Regions from separate parts of the Homo sapiens genome. Here region 1 is linked to region 2. Evidence: fine-mapped expression QTL. A gene starts in region 2. The other region holds a variant in brackets. All regions are shown on one strand. Distances are from middle to middle. Region 1 overlaps TCF20 (transcription factor 20). Region 2 holds the start of SNU13 (small nuclear ribonucleoprotein 13).

Region 1 (2,798 bases), 540 kb before region 2:
TCAGCCACTCGAGTAGCTAGGATTACGGGCATGTGCCACCATGCCCAGCTAATTTTTGTATTTTTAGTAGAGACGGGGTTTCACTGTAATGGCCAGGCTGGTCTTGAACTCCTGGCCTCGTGTGTTCTGCCTGCCTTGGCCTCTCAAAGTGCTGGGATTACAGGCGTGAGCCACCACGCCCAGTCTTAAAAATTATTTTTTAATATCCTATTGAGATTTTGACTGGAACCTATTAGAATTTTATAAACTAATATGTGGAGACTTAACGTCTTTACAATACTAGCCCTTTTTATCTAGCTATACCATTTGTTCTGCTAGTTTGTTTCTTTCCTTTTGTTTTGAGCTTTTTTGGGTTGTTCAGTGAAGTCTCTAATTTTCATATAGCTTTTGCCCACTTCTGCTTTGGATTGGTCATTGATATCTTTTGAATTTTAATTCAGAATTGTATTTGTTTGTTTTATTATTATTTCTTTTTAAGAGACAGAATCTCACTCTGTCACCCACGCTGGATGGAGTTCAGTGGCGTGATCTTGGCTCACTGCAACCTCCACCTCCTGTGTTCAAGCGATTCTCCTGCCACAGCCTCCTGAGTAGCTGGGATTATAGGTTTCCGCCACCGTATGTGGCCAGTTTTTGTATTTTTAGTAGAGACAGCATTTCACCATGTTGGCCAGGCTGGTCTTGAACTTCTGACCTCAGGTGTGATCTGCCTGCCTCAGCCTTCCGAAGTGCTGGGATTACAGGCTTGAGCCACCAGGCCCGGCCTCAAAATTATATTTGAATGAATTATAAAATGGAACATCCTTTTAGCCTATAAGTGGCAACACTAATTACCTCCCTTTTGCCTCTGAAGGTTTAGAAATTATGTATTAATACAACCTTTGAATGAAAAAATATATTCAATGACATCTCAGAAGCCCCTACGCTCAGCATTTAAGAAAATCCCACAGGAGCCTCTAGCTAGCCCCAGAGATGTCCTGCTCCCACCCTTCTCCTGCCCCCTTTTTGGGAACTGTTTGGCCATCCTGCTCACATATGTGGTCATCTGAAGTGATCTTGGGATGCCCCTGTGAAAATAAGACAGATAGCCATGGAGTGGGGGTGGGGCCAGGATAGGGCCCAGGTGCCTTTGGTCTGCTCAGGAGCAGATTTATAGCATCTCCTTGCAGAGTTACAGAAGCATGTGGTGGATATAGGATGCTTGCAGCCTCTTGGCTGTTTGAAATTATGCCTAATAATAGGCCTGCCGACTGTGGGTTGGAATTCAGCTGACTTTAGGCCTGATTCTCAAAAAATAATTTTGAGCTAGTGACCCTGTGTGCACACTTGCCTGGGCACTGTGGTGTCCAACAACCCTGTGTGTGGCATTGGCACCAGGTTTCCTGAAGTAGAGGTCCTGTCTGGCAGGCTCCTCCCTTCCCTCCTGCTTCTGACTTGTGGGGTCCCCTGTGCCTCTATTTCTTTCCCTTGGGCAGAGCAGCACTTTGCTGTCAGTAGGAACAGATAAAGCTCTGATACTGTTGAGATAGTTCAAGGGTTGTAATTTTTTTTTTTTTTTTTTTTTTGAGACGGAGTCTCGCTCTGTCGCCCAGGCCGGACTGCGGACTGCAGTGGCGCAATCTCGGCTCACTGCAAGCTCCGCCTCCCGGGTTCACGCCATTCTCCTGCCTCAGCCTCCCGAGTAGCTGGGACTACAGGCGCCCGCCACCGC[G/A]CCCGGCTAATTTTTTGTATTTTTAGTAGAGACGGGGTTTCACCTTGTTAGCCAGGATGGTCTCGATCTCCTGACCTCATGATCCACCCGCCTCGGCCTCCCAAAGTGCTGGGATTACAGGTGTGAGCCACCGCGCCCGGCCTAAGGGTTGTAATTTTTAAATGAGGTTAATGACATTTTGGCTGAGCACTGTGGCTCACCCTGTAATCGCAGCACTTTGGGAAGCCAAGACAGGTGGATCACTTGAGGTCAGGAGTTCAAGACCAGCCTGGCCAACATGGCGAAATGCTGTCTCTACTAAAAATACAAAAATTAGCCGGACGTGGTGGCAGGCACCTGTAATCTCAGCTACTTGGGAGGCTGAGGCAGGAGAATTGCTTGAACCTGGGAGGCAGAGGCTACAGTGAGCCAAGATTGCACCACTGCACTCCAGCAGTGCAGTGTAAGACTCTGTCTCAAAAAAAAAAAAAAAAAGTGATTATTTCCTACACAAAAATTAATGTAAATAGAAATGAAAAGGGGAAAAAATACTTCCACAACACTGCCATCTTGGATAGTCCAGAAGTTTTCCTTTTTTCTCCATTATTCCCTTTGGCCTGGGACTAAATGAATGCCTCATTTTCAGATAGTTATAATCATAGCACAGGTATAAGTTTACGTGAGCTGCTCTTTTCATCTGATACTATGTAATTTTCTATGGTGCTAGAGTCTTTGCAATTGTTTAAAATGATTATGTACTATTTCTTTGAGTGGATATACCATAATTTGTTTAATCAATTTTCAAATAGGTTGTTGCCAGTTTTTTCTTCTAATACATATTACTGGAGTGAATATGTTGGTATTTTGTTTTTTTGTTTGGTTGACTGTTTTATTACCAGTTTTCTTTTCCAAGAGTCATAATCATTTATGGTGCTTTTTTTTTTTTTTTTTTTTTTTTTTTGTACCAGCTTTAGCCTAACCTAACCAGATGGGATATCATCTTTTAAATTTTTTAGGAAATTTTTTTTTTGAGACAGAGTCTCGCTTGTTGCCCAGGCTGGAGTGCAGTGGTGCGATCTCACTGCAATCTCTGCCTCCCAGGTTCACG
Region 2 (2,798 bases):
TTGGATCTGCCTGTCCTTCTATTATCAAACATTTAATGAACACTGTATTGAATACATGTATTCTTGTTTAACCACTCAACATGCCTTTCTCGTTGCTTGCAGTATCCTGATTTCCTGTGGGGGAATTACTTTTCCCATCTTAGGATCAGTGTTGGTGGGAAAATAAATGTTACCCTGAAGACTCTTTTACCCAAAAGTTCTATTCAAAATATTAAATATCTGAGCAGGCAGGGACGTCAGCCAATTATAATGAGCCAGGCCTTAACTGTTTAGTGGCTGGAATTTTTTTTTTTTTTTTTGAGACCGAGTTTCCACTCTTGTTGCCCAGGCTGGAGTGCAATGGCGCGATCTCGGCTCACTGCAACTTCCACCTCCCAAGTTCAAGCGATTCTCCTGCCTCAACCTCCCGAGTAGCTGGGATTACAGGCATGCGCCACCACGCCCGGCTAATTTTGTATTTTTAGTAGAGACGGGGGTTTCTCCATATTGGTCAGGCTGGTATCGAACTCCCAACCTCAGGTGATCCGCCCGCCTCAGCTTCCCAAAGTGCTGGGATTACAGGCGTGAGCCACCGCACCCGGCCCTCTTTTTTTTCTTCTTTTTTTTGAGACGGAGTCTCACTCTGTTGCCCAGGCTGGAGTGCAGTGTGCAGTGGTGCGATCTCGGCTCACTGCAAGCTCCGCCTCCGGGGTTCACGGCATTCTCCTGCCTCGGCCTCCCGAGTAGCTGGGACTACAGGCGCCCGCCACCATGCCCGGCTAATTTTTTGTATTTTTAGTAGAGACGGTTCACTGTGTTAGCCAGGATGGTCTCGATCTCCTGACCTAGTGATCCGCCTGCCTCAGCCTCCCAAAGTGCTGCGATTACAGGCGGGAGCCACCGCACCCGGCCGGCCTTTTTTTTTTTTTTTTTGAGAGTCTCGCTCTGTCGCCTCAGCTGGAGTGCTAGAGTGCAGTGGCATGATCTCAACTTACTGTAGCCTCCACCTCCGGGGTTCAAGCGATTCTCCTGCTTCAGCCTCCTAAGTAGCTGGGGTTACAGGCGCCCGCCACCACGCCTGGCTAATTTTTGTATTTTTTAGTAGGGACGAGGTTTCGCCATGTTGGCCAGGCTGGTCTCGAACTCCTGTCCTCAGGTGATGCGCCCGCCTCGGCCTCCCAAAGTGCCGGGATTACAGCCATAAGCCGCTGCGGCCGGCCGGTGGGTTACTTTTTGAATGTTTAATTCATTGTTTCTGCCAATAATTTGTACTAGGCAGCTCATAAGAACGCCAAAGTACGTTCCTTCTTCGACACAGGGCCAGTTTCCGCGCCAGTGCCCCCGTAGAGGGCGGGGCCCACTCGCTCGCGTAGCGTCACCTTCGCTTCCTGCCGCGCGGGGCCATTTCCGCTGCTGCTTCTGTGAGTTTTTCCGGTGCACGCGAGTGCTTCTGAAACGTCAGCTGCGCTCCCCTAGGAGTGCTGAGCCCGCGGAACCGCAGCCATGGTGAGTGCGTGCGCCGGCCGAGGGACCGGGAAGCGGGAGACTCAGGGTTGCGTTCACTCCCTAGCCTGTTAGATGGAGGCTTAGAGCCTGCGCCGTCTCATCCGCCGGCGTTGGGTCTTAACCGCCGGGCCCTTAGTTAGAACCCCAGCAGCGGCGGGGTCCCAGCAGCCTGGCCCGAGGTTAGAACTCAGGAAACCTTAGGATCCCCGCAGCTGTGTTGCTTTGCCGCACGGTCTGTTTGCTTGGCAAAAGGCCTGCAGCGAGCGGAGGGGGCATGGCCCAGCCTGGGAGAAAGAGACCAACCCACGTGGGAGAGGGCAAAAAGTTGGGTGAAGAAAACTTGGCTCCAACTTTTTTTTTTCCTTGTTTCTTTTCATACGAAATCTACGATGGCGTGGGACCCTGGGATTCGGATCAACCTCTCCTACCCACCCTACCTCACCCCACCCCCGTTGCTGGGGTTCAGGAGGAGATCTCCCATGGGTCTGCGCTTAGTGCCCGCCGCGAGTCACACGCGCCAGGGACCTAGAGGAGCCTTTGGCATTTGGGGGCTGTGGGGAACATGAAGTGAGCGCGACTCACGGCCTGGAGTGCAGGAAAGGCTTCTCCTGCAAGGCGGTGGCTTCAAAAACCAGAAGTCTGGTAGCACCACGTGCGGCGTCTCTAAACTCTTGGTCGTCTCTGACTTTTAAACATCTAGGGAAAGTTCTAAAACGTGTGTCCTGGCGTAGTAGTTTTGGTTGGCACTTGGTGAGGAGGGAAGAATTTGTAAAGCACTGTAACTTCTATAGTTAATCCTTCCAGTGGAGCTTGGATCCCGGCGGTAGCACTCCCCACAAACCTCCTCCCATGCATTTTGAAGCTTAGTACGTGGCTGAGCCTAGAACTTGAAGCTTCCAAACTCAGTGCTCGCTTTAACGCAGCTCCCTGAAACGTTTTGGAATCGGATGGTCTCAGGTTGAACTTTGCAGTTTTCCTCAACTGTAAAATGGGGATGACAGTGCATGAGGGTGTTGTGAGGATCAAATGAAATAAAGCATGGTAAACATCTAGTCCTGATGCTTGGTACAGAGTAAGCACGCAGTATTTGTTGTTCAATCAAAACCTTGCAAGTTTTGGCTGTCTGGTGTACAGCGAAACCAAACTGATCATGCTAGGTAGGGATTTAGGTTGGCTGGTGGTATGATATCATTCGTTAATTTATTTAACCCCTGAAGAAATTGAAAGGCAAATAAATACACCCTAAGCAAGTTTCAATTAGTGTTTATAAGCTAGTTTGGTTTTAAAATTGAGTTTAACTTTTTTGTTGACTA

Evidence for each region. PIP is the estimated chance that this variant, and not a neighbour inherited with it, causes the effect.
Region 1: its variant is the best candidate, but not a certain one, in a credible set for the expression of SNU13 in whole blood (INTERVAL, PIP 0.66).

What each region holds. Positions count from the first base shown.
Region 1 is chr22:42,224,388-42,227,185 of GRCh38, reverse strand. The region is part of intron 1 of TCF20 (transcription factor 20); the gene reads left to right. Among named protein-coding and RNA genes, the nearest start is that of TCF20, 45 kb to the left of the region's middle. The variant G/A (reference allele first, on the strand shown) is at 1,712.
Region 2 is chr22:41,687,481-41,690,278 of GRCh38, reverse strand. SNU13 (small nuclear ribonucleoprotein 13) reads left to right here and starts at 1,412. Exons shown (of 3, transcript NM_001003796.2): 1 at 1,412-1,485. The coding sequence starts at 1,483. It also overlaps the pseudogene C22orf46P. RefSeq lists enhancers at 1,313-1,492, 2,043-2,212 and a silencer at 1,732-1,931.